Linked DNA regions of Homo sapiens. The protein of the gene in region 1 interacts with the protein of each later gene in a biochemical or structural test. Each region holds a gene or a part of one and is shown on either strand. Other genes may lie near its edges.

What was found.
Region 2: of the proteins of MAP3K7 (region 1) and PPM1L, one has a biochemical effect on the other in vitro, tested with the Homo sapiens proteins (one study listed by BioGRID).
Region 3: the proteins of MAP3K7 (region 1) and UBASH3A form a complex in vitro, tested with the Homo sapiens proteins (one study listed by BioGRID).
Region 4: the proteins of MAP3K7 (region 1) and TRIM31 form a complex in vitro, tested with the Homo sapiens proteins (2 studies listed by BioGRID, with this or other methods).

The regions. Positions count from the first base shown.
Region 1 is NC_000006.12:90,542,045-90,549,080, forward strand, and holds part of MAP3K7 (mitogen-activated protein kinase kinase kinase 7), read right to left. Parts: intron 6,134-7,036; coding exon 6,003-6,133; intron 5,344-6,002; coding exon 5,214-5,343; intron 2,589-5,213; coding exon 2,508-2,588; intron 1-2,507. UniProt on the Homo sapiens protein: Serine/threonine kinase which acts as an essential component of the MAP kinase signal transduction pathway. Plays an important role in the cascades of cellular responses evoked by changes in the environment.
Region 2 is NC_000003.12:160,955,231-160,962,230, reverse strand, and holds part of PPM1L (protein phosphatase 1L), read right to left. Parts: intron 496-7,000; coding exon 321-495; intron 1-320. UniProt on the Homo sapiens protein: Acts as a suppressor of the SAPK signaling pathways by associating with and dephosphorylating MAP3K7/TAK1 and MAP3K5, and by attenuating the association between MAP3K7/TAK1 and MAP2K4 or MAP2K6.
Region 3 is NC_000021.9:42,427,866-42,434,901, reverse strand, and holds part of UBASH3A (ubiquitin-associated and SH3 domain-containing protein A), read right to left. Parts: intron 2,800-7,036; coding exon 2,700-2,799; intron 71-2,699; coding exon 1-70. UniProt on the Homo sapiens protein: Interferes with CBL-mediated down-regulation and degradation of receptor-type tyrosine kinases. Promotes accumulation of activated target receptors, such as T-cell receptors, EGFR and PDGFRB, on the cell surface.
Region 4 is NC_000006.12:30,103,078-30,110,113, forward strand, and holds part of TRIM31 (E3 ubiquitin-protein ligase TRIM31), read right to left. Parts: intron 5,972-7,036; coding exon 5,949-5,971; intron 5,111-5,948; coding exon of another isoform or gene 5,092-5,110; coding exon 4,976-5,091; intron 4,711-4,975; exon of another isoform or gene 4,586-4,710; intron 2,311-4,585; exon of another isoform or gene 2,166-2,310; coding exon 2,091-2,165; intron 1,091-2,090; coding exon 1,025-1,090; intron 713-1,024; coding exon 459-712; 3' UTR 169-458; coding exon of another isoform or gene 128-168; 3' UTR 1-127.

The DNA.
Region 1 (7,036 bases):
TTAAACAGTTTGAATATATCAAGAAGTATTTGCTAATACCATAAAGCTTGTGGGAAATCCACTTAGAACAAAACAATTTCTAGAAAGTATTAAGAAATTTTGGAAATTAAGTATCACCCTTCTTTACAATTAAAATGTCATGTAGGAAATTTGAGATATTCCCAAAGGATGGGCGGTATTTTTATATTTAATTTAAAAACATTACCTATGAGCACATTCATGATTGGCTTTTATGTCCACTAGTGTCAATTCTACAGCTTGTATTCTTCTATTAAAGAAAGTGCACCTGAGTAAGTTAATGTTTGATATCTGAGGGGGGAAAAGCCTAAAAAGAATATTTAATAAAAGGTATTACTGAATAATATTTTCATATGAATAGCACTGCTGCTCTGGCAATTAAGAGAATTAAGGTTACCTGATTCCATAAAGGCCCAATGTCATAAAAGAGGATCTCCCTGGCTGAAGAGCTCTCCTTAATGTGAACACTAAGAGAAAGCAAGAAGAAATTACTCTAGCTTCTCTGACTTAAACAAAAGAACAAAAAATGGATGTGACTTGGAGTCAGAAGATCTGGGTTGGGGTCCTGGCTATATGATTCTGGAAAAACCACTAAACATCATCAGATCTAAGTTCTTCGTCTGTTAAACAGCTATAATTTCATCCGATAACCTAGTTGTAAGATTGTATAAAGGTAAAATAAGATGTACTTTAAGCTACTTTGTAGGGCACAAAGAACATCTAATCAGGGGTTTTCAGCCTCAGCACTGCTGCCATTTTGGGCTGGATCATTCTTTGTTGGAGAAGACTGCCTGGTACACATCAGGATGTTTAGCAGCATCCCTGGTCTCTGCCCACTAGATGCCAGTAGTACCTGACAGTTATAAACTATTATTCTTTCCTTATTTTTCCCTCCCCCATTATCTTGTATAGCGTGGGCTACGCTGCCATATATAAATTTATTCTTAATGCTTAGTCATAAGATTACACTGCCATCTGTCTAAATTTTCCTGATTCCCTCAAACATTTAAGGGAAGCACAGTTCAGCGGTATGTAAGTTTAAATGCTTCCACCTCTTTAAAGTACGTCCCTTATACACAGTACCTTTCCGCATGGAGGTAAACTGATCTCCATGTAAAATGATCTCTTTGTTAATTTCTGAAGCAGTCCAGATTCAATAAATAAAAATTACCATGTGAAAAATGGGTTAACTCTACTCTTTGAATAGCAATAGTAATGATGTTGTAAAATAAGAAACCACTTTGATAACCAGGGGAAAATTAATATAAGATAGTTTTATACAGACAAAATGGCACCTAAGAATAGTATAATTCATATTTTTGTATGCTAGTTTCTCACCAGGGGAGATGCTCAATAGGTCTGTTCATTTATTTAATAAATGTATTTATTAAACACTATGTTAATATGCTTAATATGTGAAGCACTGAGCCAGCAACTGCTGATACAATCAATAATAAGCAACAACAACAAAATAATGCACAAAGATATGGATTCTATCCTTACATAGTTTTCAGTTTAGTAGAGGAGAAAATAACCATTAGGTATTCAACTAGAATTATCAACACTGCTAAAAACACAATCACAGGCAAAGGACAGCATGCTGAAGAATTCATCCAACTCGCACTCATGAACGTGTGTGGAAAATATGTATTTCCTTATCAAGATTTTGGGTAAAGAGGTAGAGAAAAGCCTAAAGGGATAAATAAATGATAATTTTGATAATACATTAATCAATACTGAAGGTCAATATGCCATTTAAGTTTCTATTAAAAATGGTAACATATTCCTCTATGAAATGATCACCATAAGAAATAAAGCAGTTTACCAATTTTAGACACTAAAGTACCATGTGTAAGTTAGGTATAAAAACATGTAATTTATGAGATTCTCCTGATAATACACAAAAATCAGAATTGACCAACTATTTTACATGATTCTTTGGCAAGATACCCTGCAAAACAGCACATCTCATTTAGCTTTACTTTTTGTTTTCCAGGTTAAGGCAAAATGCTATTTAGCAACTCTCTTCTCTCAACTTCACATTCACTTGCTACCAACAGAAAGAGGTTAGGACAGAAAGTCTAGAGGGGACCCAAAAAGCAGTAACTGAGGAAGGAAAGGAGCCAAGGAAAATAACAAATTTTAATTAGTTGTTTCCTCTTTCTGTTGGGTGCAAAAAAGGTCTGGGTTTAGCTCATGTGCTCACTTAAAAGTAGAGAGGAAGTTGGTAGAATTCTGGGTTGGTGTTCTCCCTTCTCCAAAAAGGTTTACTTTCTCTTCTATTTTATCCTCACTTATTGTAGATCAGAGGTATCTTTTCAAGACTGCTTCAGAATAAATGTAGTTTTTCAATCTGTCTCCCTAATTACTGCATGCAAGGTATCCATTTTCATGTCTTGTAAAAATTGGAGCAAGAAGCATTTTACAAGTACCAGGGATCATTATTCCGGTTCCACAGCTATTAGACCAACTCAGGTGGTCTATGATACCTGATATGACGATCTCAGGGACATCCAGAATGTTGCCAAATGAAGCAGTTTTACGGTGGCCCCGTTTAGGCTTGGAATAGGCTGCAAAAACACATATATACAGTATACATGCAAACAACCACAAACAGTAACACGGAAAATGATTAACTACAAAAATAGACTCATTTTCAAATAGTTCATGTTAATAACATTTCATGCAGAATGGCATGCAGAACTACCTAACTTTTCATCCATGCTCAGAAAAGGCGAGATTAAAGAGCAAACAACTACCAAATACAAGATGTTTTACACACTGGTTTTAATTAGCAGAAAAAAATAAAAAGAACAGAGACAAAGCTGCAGGGTAATGAGGAAGCAAAATTTCAAATATATTCATAGAAACAGTCTACCTAAGTGAAATCACTGATCTGTGATGGGGGTGGGGGAACGAAGGAGGAGAGGAAGAAAGGCGTTAAAAAGTAAGTTGTCGTATTTGTTTTAATTACACAAACACAGGAATACATGTTCAAGTTAGGTGTTTCTTGAAGTGTGCTATAAAGTAAAATCCAATGATTAAATAATAATTATTGAATCAAAGTGTGAAATGTATATGCTTTTGTAGTCATACTTATACATATTTCTAGTACCAAATATTTATTATATTTTCCAAAGTTTAGGGTACATTCACAGTAAACACAAAGTCTGTCAAAAGGCTGGAAAGTATGACTCTTTCCAAGTAAGACAATTCATGAAAAAATTTAAATTGTGTAAAACTCAAGGGATGTACAATAGCATTTGTTCTACACTTAGGCAAAATTTTAATGTGTGTGGTTATCCTTCTAGCAAAGTCATTTCTGTAAATAATAATAAAAAACCAGTGCTTGACTAGAAATATGATACTAGCGAAGACATGAAACCATTATTATAACAATTTTCAGTTTTGAGACAGCAATTAGTATGTGGCAGATCTATCCTGAACAACATCCCTGAAGTGAAAAGGGTTCCTCAAAGCATGAGGGTATGTCCCGGTGAGTAGGGTTCATCTGACACTACAGTGAGACAACCCTGCTCCAAAGAAATACTTGTGACTCATGGAGACTCATGGGCTTGTCAGTGGCTGGTGACTTCTACTCAACTTGATAGTTTCTGAAGACCCATCTGTGGCAGACACAGCTATCTTCTGCCAGTTTCCACTCTTCCCTTCTGTTTTAGCAATAGTACTCTGATTTTATTTAGGACAGAAAAGTCATCAGATAAAAGAGGGCAGATCTCCTCTTCCCTTGGAGCTACGTGTAGCCATTCGACCATGTTACTTTGACCAATGATGTGTGGATGTTGTTAAGAGAGGCATCTGGGAATGTTCCTTCAAAGAACTTGGATGTCTATTTGCCCTGCCCCCATGTCTTCCTTCCTATTGCCTGGAATGTAGAAGTGATGAAATGGAACTTCAACAGCCATTTTGGAGCACAGGATAACTTTGAGAATGGAAGCTATACAGTAGGGATTACAGCACAGAAATAGGAGACCAGTTACTTCAAGATCACAGAGCCCACTACCTCCAGACTTGTTTATATGTGAAAAATAATGCTTATGTGTTATAGACACTGTTATTTCGGATATTCTGTTATATCTAATGGATTCTAATAGTAGCTGATAAAATCAATGATCATGATTAGTTGAAGACAAGTATAGTATGATGGTCCATCTTGACAACTTCTTTCTGAAAAGAGCTCCACACACAATGAGAATATTCTATTTAGAAAAAAACCAAATAAGTGAAAAAAAGACCTAAAAAATTGGTTAGCTAAGTTAAAAAAGATGCAAATACACATGAATATATACATTTATACACATACATAGTTAAAAGATGGGGTAAATACACAAAAATGTTAAGTGTTTATCTCTGAGTGGGGTAATTATGTAAGTTTTTTTGGCTTGTTTACATTTCCACATTTTCCACAACAGAAACGTGTTTACTTTTAAAATCAGCTCCCCCTGATCCCTGGAAAGAATCAGCAAAAAACCAAAAACGTCCAAATTAAACCAGCATTACTAAAATGAAACCTGGTCACAGAATTAGGTTGTCAGTTTACTTAAGTAACAAAACATGTAATTGTTTTTGTGCTGACCAGTTCTTCCATGATTAATAATTTTAAGAACTGAACAATGGAATTTAAATGCTAGCTTTTTCAAGATCTAATAAAATTATGATATTTTATTTTACAATTAAAAAAATTAACCACAACCAGCTTAGCTATTATTTTGTCACTGGAATGAAGAAGCAGATAGAAGGTCAAATCATACATGGATCTGGAATACATTTTTCTGTTAAATTTGAAACAAAATATTTGCTATTATTTGAGTTCAGCACAAAAATCTAGTAGTATCACTGAAAATCCCCAAAATATTCTGGTTTTGGCAGAATTTCAATTTCTCACTTAGACTTTCAACTCATGTTTGAGCAGAAAGAATTACATTTGATAAAATCTGTAAATGAGGAAGGCATACTTTCTCATCCAAATAATTTTACAAGTCATACCTTCCTTATTTGGAATTTGAGATAAATGCATAAACTATTGCTAGTAACTTAGAAAAATATATTGTAAACCTACTTCCTATTTAAAAAAAAATATAAGACACACACAAAAAACCTTTGACAACTGAAACTACCATGGCCAAAAAGGCTTATATACATTTTCACTCTTCAGACTTGTAGTTCCTTTTTACCTGTGGTTGCGGCGATCCTAGCTTCTATTTCAGACATGTCAGCACTCATCCTCTTGCCCTCAGAGGTTGGGGGCAAGCTCTCCACACTGCTCCCACGGGAGGCTCCCAAGCTTAAACGTCCAGATTCACTCTGTTAAAATTACAGGTCAATCTGAATTACTGAAGTTCTTTAGATTTAGCAATCTTAGGCAACCTAAAAGGAGGAAGATGGCAAATGGGATTCTGATAGATCCTGTTCTGCTCTGAAAGGAGAGGGAAGTTTGTACGAGAGGGAGCTACAGGGGTAAGGGAAAGCAAGCTGCAGATACTGTCTTTATGAAAAGGCAGTCACTAGAACTGGGAGCTAAAAGCCCCAATTATTCGTTAACCTAAATGCCTCAGGCAAAATGAATAAACTCACTCCTTGAAATATTTTTAAAAATCAACAATGGCAAAAATATAATAAATCTGAACAGCATGAAATGATAGACTTAGAACAACTCCTCTAACTGGGCAGCGCAGCCAAAATATACCCATTTTACATTTTTAACCATCAACCATTACATTTAGGGATTATTATAGATAGGGATTTAGAATTGGCAAAGGTAGCAATCATTAGAAGGAAAAACCATTTGGTAATAAATGGTAGGAGAATCTCATTACGTGTCTCTATTTGTAAGCTCTTTTGCATGTTTCAGGAAGAAAATTCAGGATTTATAAAATAGAAGATGGTAAATAATTAATTTCAGTTAGTATAATATTGTGACTACTGGTAAGGTTACCAGTTTTACTTGTAATAACATAACAAACCTGTTGCTTTGCCTGATTTTTCAACAATTTTGATTCTAAGCGCTTAATAGTATCATTTGTGGCAGGAACTTGCTCCATATTAGTGTCACTTTTGTTACTCGTATTTGTAGAAGCAATGTCCATGAATGAGCCTAGGAAAAGCAGAAACATTTATGACTAATGGCTGGAAATAATACAAATGCTTCACTTGGTATTATGTAACTTACATTCTTTTATAAACTAGCCAGGCAGGAACAGAAATAAAATAAGACTTTTCAAGCTAATGAAGATATCCAAACAAACCCATTTTAAGAGAAACTTAAGGATAGCACAAAAAAGGAACCAAGATGCCTAAATAGTCTTCTAATAGTCAAGAATAACTTAAGGTTTTTAACCTGAGCTAGTAGAAGAACTGAGGGCTATTAATTGAGATGCGGAAAGACTAAAGGAAGAGTGAGTTTGAAGGAAGTATCAGGAACTCAGTTTGGAAAATATTAAGTTTGAGTTTCTAGTAGATGTAAAGGAAATAGTTGGATATATGAGTATAGAGTTCAGGTATAAGATGGAAAACATTATGAGCCAACAGATGGTATATAAGGCCATAATAATGAATGAGGTTACCAAGGAAATGAGTGCAGACAGATAAGTGAAGAAGCCAAATGAGCAGGCCCTGGGCACTCCAACATTTCTAGGTTGGGGAGATGAGGAATAACCAGCAAAGAAAACTGAGAACAGACGGCCAGAGATGTAAGATGGAATCTAGGCTAGTATGGTATCTCGGAGGCCAACTGAAGAAAGTGCTGTCTGTAAGAAGGAGAAAGTAATGAATTAGGTCAAGTGCTACTGAGAGTCAAGATGAGAAATGAAAATGATTCCTTAAATGTAGTGATGTAGAGATAACTAGTGACCTTGACAAGAACAATTCTGAAGTACTGGCATAATACGTCTGAATGGAGTCAGCTCAAGAAAGAAGGGGAAAAGAGAAGCTAGTGAATGCAAATACAGACTACGTATGTTTTAGGAATGATCCAGTAGAAAGCTAAAACTGATGATGC
Region 2 (7,000 bases), on another chromosome or scaffold:
ATTTCTTGGATTCTCGGATGTAAAAGTTTTCAGTTGCTATCCAAAGTTGAAATAACACTTTAGGAGTACCCAGTTAATAAAAGGCCAAAAAAATCCCAATAAAAAACAGCAAAATTTTAAAGGCATTTGATATTTAAGATCCATTTTTAGGAATCTTCTGACCATCTTGAGACTAAAACTGCAGAGAAGAAACTTACTATTAGTCCATGTTACATAACTTTGAATCTAGTTTGCCCTTAACCTTTTACCAAGTTTAATCAAGGTTTATAATGAATTTTTTTTGCAAGGAAAAAAAATGTGTGTTTTAAAAACAAACATACCTGCTTCATCATAGGATACAGTCAATTTTTCTAGCATTTCTCGGTCAATTGACAAAATCTGCTGTTCAAGGATGGTCTGGTAAGATAATACACTATTTTCTTTGTCTTTCTCGTAGTCCTGAAGATGCTGTTTAAGGGCCTCTGGGAGTCGAGATTTTACATATTCAGCTGCAGTCTGCAGATAAAACAGTCAGAGAGAGAGAACTCCATTAGAAATTCTCCCCTTAGACTTTTTACTTACCCTCAGGTGCTATAGAGAAAGCTCAAAGCACTGTGAAACCAACCCTCCAGACAAGCATGTCCTTGTCATCGTCATTTTTAGTATCCACTGGACCCAGTAAGGTGATCTTCAAATAGAATCACAGACCTCTAAGAGTTTTCTACTAGGTTTAAAGGTATAAAAGATGATAGACTTGGTTAGATATTCGCAGATTTAGTGCTCAGAGTTTCAACTATTATAGTGAACTGAAGGCCCCTGACAGTGATTTTGCTGGATACAAATTTGACTTGCCCTTGTCTACAATGCAGAAGACAGTCACTCATCTCAGCAATGACCCCATCCATGCTACGGCATCCACATCCCTACTTTGTTTTATTAGTCTCTACTCATTAATGTTTACATAAGAACTCTTGTAAAGTGAATTTTATAAAGGAGAGTCCTCTGCTAGGGCTGATAATGAAATAATGGGATAAACAGAAAATGAGGAGATTTAAGACAATGCCCCTTAACCTGGGGCAAAACAAACAAACAAACAAACAAACAAACAAAACCAAACCTCTTCACCACTTAAATGCCTTAAAGCTTACATATATATAATTCTTACTTTGACAAGTTTGTTGTTGTTGTTGTTGCTGTTTGTTTTTTGTTTTTACACTATCTGTACAACACACTCCCAAATAGTTACATTCCAATTAGTAACAACTAATTACATGCAGTGATTTTCAATCAGGTAAGCACGTTCCACATGGGGGTAGGAAGGAAGATATGCATATTTTGAAAAGATTTTCCCAAAGATTCTGATATGTTCTTCTGGTAGGCTGCAGTGGTAGCATACTCTTTTCTCTCCAAGTTGAGAATCCCATTGCTAGTTAAGCAGAATTTTATGAGCATAATTAAGTGACAGAGAGGCATGCATAAATCAGGGGAATTCTGAAATTTATAAAACTTCTCTCTCAGGAATGTCAAAAGTTTAGCATCTCCTTGCAGTGCAGTCCTGCTTTACTCACATAGTGTCTAAGGTTAATAAATCAATCAATGAAGTCCACCATATATTGTTCAAAATTATATTCATAACCAGTATAAAACTTCACACACACACACACACACACACACACACACACACACACACACAAAACTGCTAAAAAACGAACAAACAAACAAACAAAAAGATGGTATCTGGGGCAATCTTTGCTTAGAATAAGGCAAAGACACATCTACATAGAAAAAAGAAAAACCCATAGTGTTCTGTTGCACAGTAGGGTGACTATGGTTATCAGTAAGGTGTCGTATATTACAAAATAGCTAGAATAAAGGTTTTTGAATGTTCCCAACATAACTAAATTATAAATGAATGAGGTAAGGGATATGCTAACTACCTTGATTTGAACACTATATAAGATATACATGTATTGAAACATCAAACTGTACCTCATAAATATGTAAAGTTACAATGTATCAGTTTTTAAAATTCTGTACAGCTATTAATTGTACAACTTAAAATAAGTATGCATTAAACATACATACTGATATATATATATATATGATACACGCTAATCAACAGAGGTTCAGTTTTTTTCATTTATAGAGTAGTATCCTCTATAGCCTTTGGAAAAAATGAGATAGGACTATATGTACTGACCAGGAAGAATACCATAATATATTGTTGAGGTTAAAAATCAAAGTCACAGAATATCAGGTACAGTATATCCTACAACATATATATACATATATATGAGCATAATTAAGCAACACATATATATATAGTGTATTTAGCATTATCATATAGGCATAGGAGAAGGTATGAAAGAATATACTCCAACTGTGGAAGACACTTTATTTTTTTATTTTTATTTTTTTGAGACTGAGTTTCACTCTTGTTGCCCAGGCTGGAGTGCAATGGCATGATCTCGGCTCACTGCAACCTCCACCTCCTGGGTTCAAACGATTCTCCTGCCTCAGCCTCCTGAGTAGCTAGGACTACAAGTGCCTGCCACCATGCCCGGCTAATTTTTTTTGTATTATTAGTAGAGACGGGGTTTTACCATGTTGGCCAGGCTGGTCTTGAACTCCTGACCTCAGGTGATGCACCCGCCTCAGCCTCCGAAAAAGCTGAGATTACAGGCGTGAGCAACCACGCACAGACAATACTTTCTACATTCCACATTTTTGTATTGTTTCCATGTTCTTACTATTGTAATTTTTTAAAATTGTCTTTAAAGTGTATTTGGTTTTTAAAAATTTTATTTCAGTAGTTTTTGGGGAACAGGTGGTTTTTGGTTATATAAGTAAGTTCTTTAGTGGTGATTTCTGAGATTTTGGTGCACCCATCACTGGAGCAGTGTACACTGTACCCAATATTTAGTCTTTTATCCCTCATCCCCTTCCCACCCTCCCCCTTATGTCCCCAAAGTCCATTATATCATTCTTATGCCTTTGCATCCTCATAGCTTAGCTCTCGCTTATAAGTGAGAATTTATGATATTTGGTTTTCCATTTCTGAGTTACTTCACATAGAACAACGGTCTCCAACGCCATCTAAATTGCTGCAAATGCCATTATTTCATTCTGTTTTATGGCTGAGTAGCATACCATGGTGTATATACAACACATTTTCTTTATCCACTTGTTGGTTGGTGGGCATTTAGGTTGGTTCCACATTTTTGCAATTGTGAATTGTGCTGCTATACACATGCACATGCACGTGTCTTTTTTATATAATAACTTATTTTCCTTTGGGTAGATACCCTAAAATGGATTTCTTTATAACCTTCATGATTTTCTCTTTAAATGATAACAAAATTTAGGATGAAAAGAAACTTGCCAGAACAATGACAACTGACTTCCCAGGAAAAGTCCACTGGGAAGTGGTGGTGAAAAGTTATATTTTATCCCCTAGAGTAGCCAAAGGTAACACAACACGTTTTAGTTCCAGATTTATATTTATATTTCCTAACTCTGTTGCTGACAAAATTACAACTTTAACATCACCAAACATTGTTCAATTTCTCTGCCAGCCAGCTAGTGCAGAACAAATGAAATTATTCCATAAAATGTAAATGGACTCAGCACATTTGTGCAACATATATAATTGTAAAATTTAATAACATTTTTTCCCTGACACTGGAAAATGAAGAGACACACTGCACAATAACTGTTTTTAAACTCACACTACCTTGTTACTCAGTGTAATATCTGTCATTAATTTTTTTCCTTGAAATGCCTATGAGGTACAGGAAATAGTTCCATAATTCACATTTTACAAATATTGATGTACTCTATATTATTGAAAGCACACCATGGGATTCCTGGCTAGCCATATGCAGAAGATTGAAACTGGACCCCTTCCTTACACAATATACAAAAATTAACTCGAGATGGATTAAAGACTTTAATGTAAAACTCAAAACTATAAAAACCCTGGAAGATAACCTAGGCAACACCATTCAGGACATAGGCATGGCCAAAGATTTCATGCTGAAGACACCAAAAGCAATTGCAAAAAAAGCAAAAATTGACAAATAGGATCTAATTAATCTAAAGAGCTTCTGCACAGCAAAAGAAACCATCATCAGAGTAAACAGACAACCTACAGAACTGGAGAACATTTTTGAAAATTCTGCACCTGACAAAGGTCTAATATTCAACGTCTATAAGGAATTTAAACAAATTTACAAGAAAAAGACAACCCCATAAAAAAGTGGGCAAAGGACACGAACAGATACTTTTCAAAAGAACACATACATGCAGCCAACAATCATGAAAAAAAGCTCAACATCACTGATCATTAGAGAAATGCAAATTAAAACACAACGAGAGGCCGGCCGCAGTGGCTCACGCCTGTAATCCCAGCACTTTAGGAGGCTGAGGCGGGCGGATCACAAGGTCAGGAGATCAAGACCATCCTGGCTAACATGGTGAAACCCCGTCTCTACTAAAAATACAAAAAATTAGCCAGGCGTGGTGACGGGCACCTGTAGTCCCAGCTACTTGGGAGGCCGAGGCAGGAGAATGGGTGAACCTGGGAGGCGGAGCTTGCAGTGAGCCGCCATTGCACCACTGCACTCCAGCCTGGGCGACAGAGCGACACTCCGTCTCAAAAAAAAAAAAAAAAAAGTCAAATAATAACAGATGCTAGCAAGGTTGTGGAGGAAAAGGAAGACTTTTACACTGCTGGTGGGAGTGTAAATTAGTTCAGCCATTGTGGAAGACAGTGTGGTGATTCCTCAAAGACCTAAAGACAGAAATACCATTTGACTCAGCAATCCCATTACTGGGTATATACCCAAAGGAATAGAAATCATTTTATTATAAAGACACATGCTCGCATATGCTCATTGCAGCACAATTCACAATAGCAAAGACATGGAATCAACCTAAATGCCCATCAGTGATAAACTAGATTAAGAAAATGTAGTACACATTCACCATGGAATACTATGCAGCTATAAAAAAATGAGATCATGTCCCTTGCAGGCTTATGGATGCAGCTGGAGGCCATTATCCTTAGCAAAGTAACACAGGAACAGAAAACCAAATACTCTGGTCTCTTATTGGTTTTAGTCAATCCTTCATATCTTTCAAAGTCTGGCTCAAATGCCATGTATATACTGTTAGTATTGCCTAACCTAACTTGAACATCTAAGAGCATCCAACAGCTTTCCAATTATTTTGTATTTGTACAGGTATAGGTACTTTAGCTCCTCCAACTGGTGGAAATAAGGACTGTATCTTACACACTATTGTGTTCCCCCACATCTGGTTCAATGCTTTATACCATAGAAGCTCAATACTTTGACACTATGCAAAAATCAAGTACTTTCAGATAGCTTGGGAAAAAATGTTTTGACAGTTCCTAATTCTTTCTTGCATACAGATCTTCCTTTCACAATTTCAGATAGAGAATAAAAGTCTGGTTTTCTACTGGCAAATGGAACTATTCTTGGTCTTTAATTTTCTTTCATGCCATTATTTCAGAAAAGTAAACAGCTCAAACCCAATCATAATTCACACGCCAAAATGGCAAATTATGTGTTTCACACTTAAAGCTGTATGAGGCTTTATTTAATGCTTTCCTCTCCATAATCATTTGATCTTCTCCATTCTTGCCTTTATTTCTGCATTTGGCAATGGGGTTGACTGATTCTTCTAGGGACCCTTTGAGGAATCACGTGCAATGTACATCAGAGCTGTACACCTGAATTAAAGGTTGCCTTGCAGGATGTTAATTACACCTGGACTTTCAGCTCTATGTTTAGCCAGACATATCCTAAATGGCTGAAGAGAAATCTTAGGGAAGAAAGTGCAAAAAAGTTCACAGGTTCCCTCCAGTTAGACCTGAAAAGATGATGACTTCGGCAACAGCTAGAGTAAAAATATGAGCTAAAAACTTACAAGGCAGGGCATAAAAGGTGCTGAATGTGCCTTTTTACAGAATTTACATATATTTATATTACCCATTCTAGCGTTAGTCTGGAAGACATTAAAGGGTTACAGTAAACTCCATAAAAAGAACTCAGTGGGTAAGAAGGATAAATGAAAAGAAGCAGAATGATTAAGAACCTAAATTCTGGAAATGTAGGTAGAATGCTGATGCTGGTCATTAGGCTAAAATACTATTTACTATTATATGGTATATTCTTTAAGAACTAATACATATTAAAGAATTCAGGTGGGGTGGTGCAAAAGTATATTTCAAGAGCTGCTAAATGTTTCACAATTCATCTTAAAAAGAAAACTCGGCCCAGCGTGGTGGCTCACGCCTGTAATCCCAGCACTTTGGGAGGCTGAGGCGGGCGGATCATGAGGTCAGGAGATGGAGACCATCCTGGCTAACACGGTGAAACCCCGTCTCTATTAAAAATACAAAAAAAAAATTATCCGGACGTGGTGGCGGGCACCTGTAGTCCCAGCTACTCGGGAGGCTGAGGCAGGAGAATGGCGTGAACCCAGGAGGCGGAGCTTGCAGTGAGCCGAAATTGCACCACTGCACTCCAACCTGGGCGACAGAGCGAGACTGTCTCAAAAAAAAAAAAAAAAGAAAACTTGTTAGCCAGCCAATTCTAATTTATTGACTGTCTGCTGAGTAATACATATTAGGCTTGAACTGTTGGGAAAACAAGCCTTTACCATAAAGGAAACTGCAATTTTAATATGCAAACAAAACACACATGAAATACTAGAAAAACACATTTTACAAAGTAATGCAAAAATACGCATGAATCCCGAGATAAATTAATATATTTATTTAATGCATGAGTTATGTTAGGTGCTAAACAGCCTTTAGGGAGAGAAATTAAGATAGGAGGGAACACAGAAAAATAATCAGGAAATAATTCTGGTAGAATTTAAAGACCAATTTTAAAAAATAATTTAAAAAAGAAGGCTGGGCACCGTAGCTCACACCTGTAATCACAGCACTTTGGGAGGCCGAGGCAGGCAGTAATCACGAGGTCAAGAGATC
Region 3 (7,036 bases), on another chromosome or scaffold:
AAGTCTTTGATCCCACGACTCCGTCTTGGCAGACTGCAGGGGAAATTCAGGTCTGGCCTGTAGTATTTCCCTGAAGTATAAATAAGCATCAGACGTTCAGTTTCATCAAGTTAGTACAGATTTGTTCCACAAAACTCCCAAGACCAAGACCCACTCTAACAGCAATGTTATTATTGAAATTATTGTCAACTGTGTTGTTTCTGAACATTCTCTGCAACGTGGCTTCAATTTGAGAAGAAAGTGCTGCTCAGCTGTGCACACAACATTTTCTCAAATGCAGACAACTTAGGTTTCAGCCCCAGGAACTATGCAACCCTCTTTGTCCTCCCAAAATGCCCCATGAAGATTCACTCTTACATTTTCCTGATGAAGAACCTGATAAAGTGTCTCTATGACTAGTTTAGTGTAACTCGGTAAGAATCTGAAGTTGGCATCAATGATCCATCCCCCTAGCTTTAAACGTATCCTTCTTGCTCAGGGGACAGAGTGCTTGAGCTGGAGATGCCTGTGTTGTGCATTCTTTAGTCAATTGCTTGAAGCCAGGCTGGAAGTGGGCTCACTGGGACTGTCTCCCACCAGAGGCTGCCCGGTGCCAGGGTTCACGTGGAGTTTGACCTTGAGTTCTAAGATCTGACAGTCTGGTAGCAAATCCTGGCATCACCATCTCCTCACTGTGCAGCCAGAAATAAATGACTTCATCTCTCTTATCAGTAAAAAACAGGGAAAGAGTAGCGATTGCGAGGTGTCAGTGAGGTAACACCCATAGCCCAGAGTCTGACTCAAGAGGGAGTGGTCAACGAGTCGGGGCACTGGTCTCATGTCACCACGTCAGGATGACTGATTATCCTCACACAGGACACCACGACACACTGCTCCCTCCAGTGCACTCTGGTTTGCCTTCACATTCTCCAAAGGGACCCCAAGCCTCCTGGTTATTAGGAGGTTCCAGCAGCCACACTGACCTTCCTGAGACCTGCTCTGCCATACATAGCAGGCCCTGCCCTTTGCACCCCAGAATATGCCAGGCCCCTTCATCCTGGCCCACAGCCTTGCACAAACCCAGAGTCAGGGGGCAGTGGGGGGCAGCAGGGGTCAGCGGGGGGCAATTTTTCATGCCTGCATTTTAGTTTCCATATAGGAGTTTTCTGAAGACTCCCTCCCTGGGATTTCCATGGGCAGAGACTCTTGTTTGAACACTGCATTTTAGAGGTGTTTATTCAATGCCAACATTAGCTCTTGGGAAAGGCAGTTTTAAAATCAGAGAGAAAGTCCATCAATTTCATTGTGTTCTCAAAGGCATCTGTGATCCCCCTCTAAAATGTCAAGACACTCCATTTAGGTATTTTGCTGTCATTGACACTTCAGCTGTGATCACTCTGGGGGCAGAGGGCAGAGCTCAGGAGAGGACAAGGATGTGGGGCAAGGTCAGGTCCTGATGGGAGCAGAGTCTGTGTGGAATATGGGGTGAGGTGAGGGGCCCTGTGAGGATGTGGGTGCCTGGGCCAAAAGTGAGCTGAGCTGGGGAGAGGCCAGTAGAGCCCCCCAAATCTCCCTTGTGTTCCCTGAGGTTGGTCACCTTGGGGGAGGACGTGGCTATACCTCCTTGTGATTTATTAAACCCTGCAATATACAAAATTCAGACAAACTAGATGTAATTCTTCACTTTATCAAGGGCCTCTCTACCTTGGGAAAAGATCCACCAGGAGTTTCCTTTCAGATGGGGATTTCCAGTGCCTTTAAAATATTTTCCCTTATAAGTGACTTGATCTTTTGTCCAGATGACCAAATATTTTTTCTTTTTCTATGAAGTTCAATAACTATTTTTGGTGTTGATTGTTTTGTATTGGTTCTCCCCACCATGGACAAGGTGTGTCAGTTCAATCTATAGCTTCAGTAATTCAATAGCTAAAAAAACTGTTTTATTGAAAAAAAGTTTCTTATATGTTTGTTAATGCATCCTGATAGCCACCTATTGTCTTATTGTTGCTTTAAGCTCTTGTATCTTTACTTGATCTTGTTTTATAGAGGTGACCATATTATTAGCTCTGTGAGTTCTTGGAAATATGCTTGATCATGATGTTATCTGCTCAGAATCTTTTCTGGTGTGTGATTGTCATCTGCCAATGGTTTTCCCTACTCATTTACCACTTTCTTGGGTCTGCTGGGCTTCTGGAGGGGGATCCCAAAAGGGTTCGGCTAACCTAGCAACTGTGAATTGATTTTGTCACTACATTCAATGCCTTAATTTATGTAATGGGTCATGGCTTAGAAATTGTGACACTACAGGCTTCCTATTAGGAGATTAGCATTGATGTGGACATTGATCATCAATACAGAGGTTGGCTTGTGGGTATGTGTATTTATAAGCACTATTCTTACTTCCTGGCATTCAGAGGAGAAAAGCTGGGGTGTGCAAGAGGCATGTTCAAGAATACGTCCATCTGTTAAGCAGCATAGCCAAAAATTACATCAGTTAAGATTAGGTTGGAGAGGTTCCAACACAGACACTCAAATGCATACATGGAACACCCCTGGAGGAAGATGTAGCAGGCACGTTTTCCACACATACAGTCTACACATGGTCATTCTACAGAATGGTGCCTCAGGGGATCTGGTGCCATGTAAGGTCATTAAGAAGGAGATCTCATTGGTTAGATCTACAGTGTTTCTGTCCGTAGACCCGCCTGAGTGTGACCTACCATCAGGAGTGGAGCATTGCTGCAGCCATGCCTTCCCGAAGATCTGATCCACTCTCTCCCCGTGGCGAACCACCAGCACGCTCTTCCTTGCAACGGTAGCCTGGGGGGTGGGGCAGGAAGCAAGGCACATGCAGTTTAACATCCAACTCACTGGACTTGCACCAATGGCAGCTCTCCCAGTCACCCAGCAACTGCGAGGGAATCTTTTCCTTCGTTAGTCAATAGCTCAGCCCATTTTGCCCAAATCATTAGAATGAAAGAGGACATGAAATTGACAATCTCTTCAATTTCTTCCAATGTTTTATTTTCTGGGCATTCTAACATCAAGAAAATGAAAAGAGACAGGATTGGCCCCTATCATGACACATCCGTTTTTCTACTTTTCTGTCTTTTCTAAGTCCTTATCATTCCCATAGAGACGTCTTAGGACATTATCCCTATCTATATTATAATATGTATTGTTATAGTATAGATTACCTATCTATATATCTAGTCTCCTCTCTTGCTGGCACACTTCTTCTGAGAAACCCTCCAGGACTGCCCTGGTGTTGACCTGTTGAGGGGCCGTCCTTTTATGGCTCCCAGGTATGAATTCTGCTTCTGAGCACCAAGGGGAGAAGCCCTCATCCATCCCCTTGCTGTTTTCCCATAGCTGGTCATTCTCTGTTTGGCTGAATGCTAAAGGAAAACAGTACTTTATAGTTTATTTACTTCTTCTCGGCATGAGACTGGCCTTGGCGGTGGCCAGCAGCTTCGAGCCAGGGACAGCAGCTCTCTGGCACCTTCCTCCCCAGCCTCAGGCAGCCGCAGGATGGCCTTGGAGCCTTGCAGTTACAGGGCTCACGCCCGCCCTCTTTCTGGGGAGCCTGTGCTTTGGGGAAGTAGCCCAAAGGTCATGCTTGGGGCAGCGAGGCTGGCTACCCTTTGGGAGGGGCCTCCACTGTGTGGGATGGTGTTGTGGGGGGCTCTGTCCTCAGGGGCTAGGCCACCCTTCTCCCCATGCTGTGCAGGGCTGATCAAGTTGAGGGACTGGCCTTGAGAGGAACCCACAGCAAATGAGATGAAGAGAGTGAATGAGAGCTGAGGATGCCCCCCCTGGGACCAGAGAGCAGAGTGCTAGGGGCCGAGCCAGCTAGAGGCCACCAGGACAGCTGCGTGGAGCATAAGCCCTGCACCAGGACCCTGGAGGGAGACACCAGGCTCGGCTGCTTCCCTGGAGGGCACTAATGTGCCAGCTGACATCGGCCCTTCACCTACATTCCCAGCCCCAGAGCCAGGCCCAGGCTATCCAGGGGGGTCCATTTCAGAGCAAGAGGTGGGGAACCCTGCAGCAACACAGGCCCAGTGGTGCTGCCCTCTGGCACCCAGGACTCATGCCTCAACCTCCCTGTGACATGGCACCGCAGGGGGGAGCATGTCACATGCTGGTCCATGAAGCTGCAGTCCACAGCATCCCTGCTTTAGGGAGCTGCAGGTCTCCCTGGGCCAAGGGATGAACATGGAAAGATGAGTCATTAACAGAGATGGTGGGGGCAGAGCGAACACGGCCTGCCACGGGAGGTGGGCTGTGGGGCCTTCTGGGGACCAAATCCTGCCTGGAGCCCAGGCGACCAGGGATGGACGGGGTAGGGAGGACCCCTGGGCAGGAGGCAGCTCAGACAGGCACTATCCCTGCCCTGCTCCCTCTTGGCCACACAGCTCTCTCTGGGCTAAAATGAGAGGGCAGCTCTTGTGTGTGTTTTCCTACTGAGCAGGGTAAGGAAGAGAGGTGAGGAGAGGTAAGCCTTGTCTGCATAAACCCTCATACACCAGCCCCAGCATCGCCCTGATTCCCTCCAAATCCTAGAGAGGAAAATGCAAATGGCTTTAACATCCAAACACCCTCAGGGAGGAAGGGACTCATTTTCCACCTGGCCAGTGCAGCTGATCATTCCTGTCTGGACTTTCTTCTGTGAACAGTGATCCAGTCTCAAGGGTCTGCACTAACTGGCCACTCGCTCTGGCAAGAGTGGTCCCCCGTGGTGTCCCTGTACCTAGGGAAGTGATTGGAAACTACTGGGAAGGAAGGGACACCAGAAAGTAGGGTGGGGGCCAATTTCACCTGCCTTGAAAGCATTCTCGGGGTCAGCACCACGGGCAGCTCCTGCCAGATCCTGTGGATCCCTTGTGAAGTCCACGCTGGCCCGGACGATGCAGAATTTCCAGCTGCTGAAATTTATCAGGACCAGACAGTTCTCGGTGGCCCTGGCTACATTTGGTAGGTGCATAAACTATGGGATTGGTGAGCCAGTGAGAACGTTTGCAGTCACCATGCAAACACTTTCTTAGGGTCACTGGGCTGAGTCTTCAAAACGGATATACGGTAAGGCCAAGTGAATAGTATTGCTTTCCCTTATTGGAAAACTTCAGTTGTTTGTTTCAGGATAGAAACATGCATCTCCTGGGGAACAGCTTCAGGGGAAGGTTTGTCTTGCTGTCTTGCTCTCTTGCATGTGAAGTGTGGTTATGCAGAGGTTGCCTACACTGACACCAAGAGGCAGCACCCACCGCCCCTATCCCAGAATGAATATTAAAACATCCTAGAGAGCTGTAGAGAGCTGATCTGCAAGTAGATTGCAAAGCATGCATGCTCTTGGAAACTCATTCTGCCTAGTAACAAAGTCCCTGAAGTTTTCAACTTGCGGGCTGAAGTTTTGGATTTGGGGTATTTTCTTCCTGGAAGAGCTCAGAGCATTTTAAATGTTCTTCTGTGGAGCTTTGCCACAGGAATATGATGATAAAGCAAAAGAAAGCCCTGTGGGGAGTGGAATGGACTGACCCCTGGGATCTATGGAATGAGGCAGGGCTGCACCAATTCTCTAGACAGAAGGTGCTGCATTGGTGTCCTGGGGCTGCCATAACAGGCTGGGCGGTGCCAAGCAAGAGACATTTATTCTCTCACAGCTCTGGAGGCTGGAAGTCCAAAGTCAAGGTGTTGGCAGGGCCATGCTCCCTCTGACATTCTAGGGGAGAATTTATTCTTTGCTTCTTCCAGCTCCTGGTGGCCCCAGGTGTTCCTTGGCTTGTGGCCACATTGCTCCAGTCTCTGCCTCTCTGGCTGCATGGCCTCCTCTGCTGCTGTATCAGATCCCCTCTGCTTTTCTCTCATCAGCACACTTGTGATGGGGTTTAGGGCCCTCCTGGATGACCCAGGATCATTTCCTCATTTCAAGACCCTCCACTCAATCCCATCTGCAGAAACTCTCTTTCCTAATAAGGTCACATGCACAAGTTCCCGGGATTAGGGCATCATCTCTGGGGCCATGATTCTACCAGACCTGTGGCCAGTTGTCTTTTCTTACTGTAGGGAAGGGGTGAAATCCCTATAGAGAAGACCGTGTGAGGGGGGCCAGTTCACAGGCAGATGCATGTTCTGTTTTCAGCCATTGAAAGCACGGTTTAGACACAGGCTGAGCTACGAGCAGAGACTTCCATTCCAGGCTCTCCCCCTACCCAATACCTGGGTACTTCTCCACAGTACCCAGGTATTGGGTCAAATGTTATTTTAGATGTCACTGTGAAGGTATTTTTTAAAAATGAGATTAACATTTAAGTCACTAGGCTGAGTAAAACAGAATGGTCTCTGTTTTACTCCAGATGATAGGGTTGTTGGAATCCATGGTACTAGCTCAATCTTTTTAAATAGCTGAAAGTCCTTATTAAAAACATTTAAAGCTTTTTAAATAATCCCCAGGCCACAGCCCTGGGGAGTCTCGGCTCTCCCAAGTCTGGGCCTTTCTCACATGGTGAACGCTGATCGCCATTTCTCATGGACCCAGCTTCAGAGACACATTCTTGATTTCTCAAGAAAAGGCCTCCTCACCTAGCCACCAAGGCTGCAAAGACCTGCCAAGGCCACTTAGCTTTGGGCTGATTTGCACCAGCTGCCAGGAGGTGCAAATGGCGACAGGGACGCTGCGTGTGGGTTGACTGTTTAGCTTCCACAGCAGAAGTTTACTCTCCCACAGTCCTGGAGGCTGGAGGTCAGAGATGATGGTGTTGCCAGGGCTGGTTCCTTTTGAGGCCTCTCTCTGGGGCTTGCCGGTGGTGTCCCCTCCCTGTGTCCTCACAGGGCCATCCCTCTTGTGTGTCTGTTTCCTCATCCCCTCTTCTTATAAGGGCAGCAGTCAGATTGGATCAGATTGCATCACCTGTGTTGCCTCATTTAACCTTAAATACCTCTTTAAAGGCCTTGTCTACAAATACAATCACATTCAGTGAGACTGGGGGTTAGGACTTCGAGATAGGAATTTTGGAGGCACACAATTCAATCCGTAACAGAGGGTGAGCGTTGACCT
Region 4 (7,036 bases), about 60 Mb from region 1:
ACGTGGGAATGTAAGGAAGAGCGAGAGTGGTCGGGCTCATGGGGTTTGATGGACTGTGACCCAGGCTGGCGTTGCTCCTCTCCGGATTTCACTCCTGGCTGAACTGGTGCCTTCGGTAAACAGCTGCTTAAAGAGTGCGGGGACTGCTGCAGGGACTTCCTTTTTCCACTAGGCGGCACCACAGCCAAAGTGATAAGAAGTCAAGCGTGGGGCGGGTGGCTGGAGATTGTCTCTTCCCCTCCTTTTGCTCAAGAATTCGTCCATTCCTTCTCCAACTCTCTTCACCACCACCCCCGCCCCCATCTCCACTCTCAGTAGCCCGAGCCCTCCCATTCTCCACTCCTTCGACCCAATTCCACTAAGTCAAGAACCGTGGTCGGTCTCAGCCACTCACTCAGCGCCACTCTATGCTCCGAAGTCCGTGTAGCACCACCGCTCCCCGTGTTCTCTGAGCTGGCTTAGCTTGAAGGAACCTCACAAAACCAAGCCCGGATCGCTGTCAGCCACTCACTCAGTGCCGCATGGAGCTCCTCGGACAGCGCAACGTCAAATGTCTTCGTATCCTGAGAGCTCGCTCCTTGACCAGAAATCTCATCATAAGAGGCCAGGAGACATACTGGAAAAGTGACTTTCCCAGCAGACGAGGCCCGAAACAGGGAGTGGGATGGGGCTGAAGAGTGGTGATTTGGTGGCCCCGATGTAGTTCTGCCGCCTTTGCGGGAGAAGGAAAGGAGAAAAGAGGTCAGCGGGAGCACCTCGGCAGCAATCCTCCATTGCCAGACAGCACAGCTGAGCTCTACATACAGCAGGAGGGATGGAGGTGAAACTCAAGAAAGTACACCTGAACAAGTCGGAGCGCCCTCTGTTTCCTGGCAGAGGTGTAATTTGGGGAGGAACTGAGGAAATGGAATAAATGAATTCATTCATTTATTCATTTATTCCATTTAGTGGAATTGGGTGGATACAGCATTTTGACCACCTGTAGACTTAGAGGTCCCTTAGTATTCAGAGACAGGACTCTTACCTGCAGAAGATGACCCGGGCTCTGAGGTTTTGTTCATTTTATGATTATTTTTCTGTAACAAGCCCCCTAAAAATTGGGGAGAGAAAACCTATTTGGTCTTGATAACCAGAAGCTGCAAATTAAAAACAAAAACAAGCACCCTGCCATCATCAATCAGAACAGTCAATGGTTCTCAGTGGGACCCATTCCCCACCCAGGGGGAAGTGTGGAAACCTTTCAGGTTGTCTCAGTGACAACAAGAGTGTGGTTCTCTACTGGCTTATAGGGCTTTCTGGGGCCTGGGATACTAAGCATTTAACAGGGCAAAAGTCATGGAGCATAACAAAGATGGCCTTTCTAAACACCGGTAGCTCCTTTTGTGGAGAAATGCTGGTGGAATAGGATCCCTAAATCCTGCTCTCTGGCTTTGGAATGCATTCTGTAGTTTCTGGCTTTGGAGAAAGGAGTTCTAATTCTCTCTCTTTCACTTAATGATCATATGACCTGGGTAACTTACCTCCCCTCCCGGAAGCTACATGGACCTCACTGTAAGTTGCAGATAATAACACCTATCTTGGAGGATAGTTGTGGGGTTTTGAAATATTAGATGCGCACATAGTGGTCCTTTAAGAAATGGTACTTCTACTGTTATTGTCTTAGGTGGCAGAACCATATCTAATGACTTTAGCACAGGCTGTTATTACAGTGGGTCTCCATCCCCTGAGCTGTACTGACCTCACACCCAGAGGAGTTTGCCTCGAAACCTGCTGCCCTGTAGGGGCAGCAAATACTACAGAGGTGGAGCTGCCTCCTTCTTGTCCCACTTTTTCCTCCCTGTCTCTAGGAGTGAAGAAATACATTTGTAATTTTCTATTACTTCTGAATACTTCAAAGTTTGGGATTAGTGACTGTTTTGTGAGTTACCTGAGTTTAAAATAATAAAACAACCATATGCCTGTTCTCTCAATTGGCTGAGGAATCGGCATTCACTTATATCTGGCCTTCATGTAATCATAGAGACACAATTCTTCCCCTTTTCTCACTTTCCCCAAATGGCAGAAGCAACCAACCATCATTTCTCACTTACAGCTCTTCATGTCATTTTTATTCATGCTTTTGAAGAATCTGTTTTCATCTTTTTTCCTATCAGCCTGGAGTTGGTCTGGGGAATAAAGAATGGGATGAAATGGTGAGAGTCCAGAGGGGTTGAGCAAAGAACTCACTATCACACAGCAAGGCACTAATTTGAAATGCCTGGGAGAAGTAGAAGCTGCATTTGACTCTCATATTCTTATTGGACCAGGAAGGTATGCAACCCTTGAGAGATGCCCTTTCTGATTTCCTGTGGTGACTGCCTAGCCCAGCACTGTCCAGTATGAATGATGAATGTAATCTGAGTCACGAATGTGAGCCACTTATATATTTTTAAATTTTCTAGTAGTCACATTTAAAAAGTAGAAAGAAACTAGTAAAATTAACTTTAATTATATATTTTATTTAACTCAATATTCTCAAAATGTTATTTCAACATGTATTATAAAAATTATTGCTATCTTTTACAGTCTCTTTTTACACTCAATCTTGTGAAATTAATGATTCTTCACATATAGCATGTTTAAATTTGGACTAGCTACATTTCAAGTGCCTGTCAGCACATGTGGCTAGCAGCTACTAAATTGGACAGTGCAGAGCTAGCCCCTTTCTCACTGCCTGACAAAGGTAGGTGCTCAGGACAAAGAGTGCCTTGAGGCTTCACCCTTTAGCTTCAGAAGGCCTACTGTAGGGCTAACCACCCAGGAGCCAGGTGGGGTAAGGGGGGGCCCCACTCTCCTAAAGCCTGGATGGCAGTCCTGCCCTCTTTCCCATGAAAGAGGGCTTGAGAGGGGGAACGAAGACAGAGCTCCTGCAAGGGGAGGCCGAGTGCCTTCATCTCCCAGTTCACCCCTGCCAGAAGAGACTCCTTTTGCAGGTAGAGGATGAGCCCAGAAGCTGGGGACAATGGCCCATTCCTGGCCTAGATTTCCTGTAGGGGTGCTGGACTGAGTGGAGAACTATAGGGTGGAGCCCCTAGATGGGGAGCTACTTCTGGCCCCAGCACCCTTCCCCCAGTGTCTTGCAGCCCCAAGACAGCACAAGACAGCCTGGGGCTAGGTAGTGGGACAAGCGTGGGTAGCTTCCCTGAGAGCCACCAGCCCAGTCATGGGGACTGCTCAGGGGAGACGCGGGGGCCCTCTTAGGAGGGGTCTGCAAACCTAGAGCATAGGAAACACTGCCTGGGAGCACTTCACCTACAAGGGCCTTTAGCGGCTTCAGGGCCCAGCCACACCCTTCTCCACGTACGTGTTCCAGACCCAGTCACCCCGAGCAGGGAGAACCAACCCTCATAATAAGAACTGTGGAGATTGGACCTGTGGTATAAGTAGACTCCCTACCACCTCCTGTATTTCCTAGGCTTTAATAGGGCCAGGTGGCCATTGTGCCTTCTTCTTTGGGGTAAAAATAAAATAAAAATAAGAGAAAAAAAAAAGAAGGAAATAGGGCCAGGTGGGAGTTGGGGGACTGTGTGTGTGTGAGTTTGTGTATGTGAAAGAGGGAAAGAAAAGGGGGATACAGAGTAGAGCACACCAGTCTCCCCAACTCCAAACCTGATGAAGTGGAAAGGGCTGGGCTCCTTTATTGAAATTCCAAACTAGAACCAAACTATTCTTGACCTGAAGAGCCTAGAAAGGTGCTGGATCGGGCTGGACGTGGTGGCTCACGCCTGTAATCCCAGCACTTTGGGAGGCTGAGGCGGGTGGATCACAAGTCAGCAGTTCGAGACCAGCTTGACCAACCTGGTGAAACCCCGTCTCTACTAAAAATACAAAAAACTAGCTGGGCATGGTGGTGTGCGCCTGTAACACCAGCGACTTGGGAAGCTGAGGCAGGAGAATCGCTTGAAACCAGAAGGCGGAGGTTGCAGTGAGCCGAGATTGCGCCACTGCACTCTATCCTGGGCAATAAGAGCAAAACTCCATCAAAAATAAATAAATAAATAAACAAATAAATAAAGTTGCTAGATCGGCTGAGATCATGCCCAGTGGGGTGGGAGGAGCTAGACAAAGCAGAGCAGTTAGTGGACAAAAGAAAAGCTCAGACAACAAAATTAAGAATAAAACAAAACATGCTTTCCTGTTTATGTCTGCCGAGTGGAGATTCCCGGCTGAATGGGTGGAGATCTTGGGGCATTGCCCTGGTCCTCCTTTTCCGTAGTCCCAAGGGGAAGTGTTTGTGTATGGGGGGCTGGGGGTTGGGGTGGGGGAGGTGGGTGTGGAACTCCAGGTGATAATTTCAGAAGATTCCATCTAGCTGTCTTTATGCCCACCTTAGACCAACACAGTCTTCACATTAAGGGGAGTCCTTACAAATACTAACCCTTCTTCCTAGTTGCAAACACAGAAAGGTTTATGAAAAATATCTGGCGAACATCTAAAACCCAAGTCATCCACTACTGTTCTGCTGATTTCTGTTTCCCTGTAAGGCTGGAAGAGGTTTCTCCCCAGAATGTCACTGATTTTGAATTTATTTTCTCTTCTTCTGTAGGCAGGAGGAGACACCAGTGTGCACCAGAGAAGGAGAAGTCAGAGATGACAGTCCCTGCCTGAGGCCATCTCTGGTCCACCAGACAACTCATCACCAACTTCCCAACAGCCACTGCTCTAGGCCAGGTGTCCACATGGGGAATAGGTCCAGGCCCTCTATGGCTCTCGCAGGAGTCAGGGAGGCAGATAAATAACATATCACAAAGACAGAATATAAGAAATGCCTGGGAGGAGGCATACTGATGCGTGGAAAGTACTCAGCCAGAAGCCTGGCACTAGAAGGGCCCAGGGATTGTTGGCATGTATGAGTCACAGTTCCATTTCAGTGGAGTGAGCAGGGAGAGAATCTCCTGGAAGTAGGTGAATAGAGAAAATACAGCCTCTTCCTTACCTTTGAATTTTTTTAGGCTCCCTGTGATGGAGTCATGTCTTGATTTTGCTTCACTGAGTTTTTTCTCCAGTTCCAGAGGAACAGGGGTTGGGTTGAGAAACTGAAACTCTTCACTTCTAGGAAGATGTGGTTGAGCTGGTTGGTGAGATCAGGGGATGAGGTGTGGGAGAAGGAGGATCTGAGATACGCGGTTGAGAAATGAGGGGATGAAGACCTGGGGGTAGAACTGAGAGCAGTGGCTCACACCTGTAATCCCAGCACTTTGGGAGGCTGAGGCGGGTGGATCACCTGAGGTCAGGAGTTCAAGACTAGCCTGGCCAACATGGTAAAACCTGGTCTCTACTAAAAATATGAAAATTAGCCAGGCTTGGTGGCAAGCGCCTGTAGTCTCAGCTACTTGGGAGGCTGAGGCAGGAGAATCACTTGAACCTGGGAGACAAAGGTTGCAGTGAGCTGAGATTGCACCACTGCACTCCAGCCTGAGCAACAAGAGCAAAGCTCCATCTCAAAAAAAAAAAAAAAAAAAAAAAAAGAAGACCTGGCGGTTAAGGGATAGTGAGCTGGGAGTCAGAAAGTCAGGGCTAGGGATATGGGGCGGGAGTGAGGTAGGGCATAGGGAGATATGGAAATGAAGATGGGAGATGGAGACAGAGAGGAGGGAAAAAAACAGGGTCAGGGAGACAGAGTAGGGGACCCAGGAGCTATTCAGTTGAGCAAGGGGGCATTCAGGAAATAGTAGAATCTGTGCTGAAGAAGGAGGAAGGCTGAGAAAACAGCTGGTTTCTTTAACAACCAACCACGTGCTAATATGGTTGGCATAGGCATTCCCCGGCTGCAGCCTAAATGTATGAATGCAGAGTTAGAGGTGGGTGGGTATTTCTGAGAGAGGAATGTTGACTGCATTTGGATATACGCTGAGAATTGTGTGTGGATGAATCAGTAGGCAAAATACATTTGGGGTGGCCCATCATACCTGCACAAGACGACTTTGATATCCTAGAAGAGAAAGAGAAACAGCACAGCCTCAGCACTTGGCTGATTCCCAGGAGCCAAGGAGGAGATACAGAGCCTGCTGGGTGTGGGGCAGAGCAGGAGGAGTAAGAACCCCTCCAAGTCTCTCTTACCCCATCCTCCTCCCCTCTCCCCACCACGAAGGGCTTCTCCAAGAAGCACTGCTCTGCCAGTAAGCAGAAAAGTGTTTTGACCTCAAGAAGAACTGAGTGAAGAAGAGAAGAGTGAGATTTAGAAGATGAATTTGGCTCTGAGACTGAACAAGGGAGCCTGCTAGCCAGGGCAGGAGAAAGGCTAGAATGGCTTTGCATGATCTTTCTTAAAATAAATAAATAGGTTTTTGAACCTGTGGGAGAATAGATGACTTGAGGAGGAATCATCTCAGCTTATTTTAAGCACCAGCTAGACTTGCACTGTCCAATATGGTAGCCACCAACCACATGTGGCTACTGAACATTGGAAATTGTGGCTAGTGTGACAAAGAACTGAATTTTTAATTTCATTTTTACTAATTCAAATTTAAATTAAAAATAGAGGCCAGGCACGGTGGTTCACGCCTGTAATCCCAGCACTTTGGGAGGCTGAGGTGGGCAGATCACTTGAGGTCAGGAGTTCGAGACCATCCTGGCCAACATGGTAAAACCCCGTGTCTGCTAAGAATACAAAAATTAGCTGGGCGTGGTGGTGGGGACCTGTAATCCCAGCTACTTGGGACTTGGGCCTAGGAGGCGGAAGTTGTAGTGCGCCAAAATCGCGCCACTGTACTCCAGCCTGGGCAACAGAGCAAGATTCCATCTCAAAAAATAAAATAAAATAAATAGAAGAAGGGTAAAGTACTTTTTCCATTAAACACAACTTTATTGATTTGGTAAGACTATATTTTACTTTAACAATTGACAATTTAGCATCTGAATTGAGATGTGCCAAAGTGAAAAATATACACACAATTTCAAAGACTCAGTGTAAAAAAAAAAAAAAAAAAAACCACCAAAAACCCAGAATGTGAAATATCTCATTAATACTTTTAAAATATTCATTACAGGCTGAAAG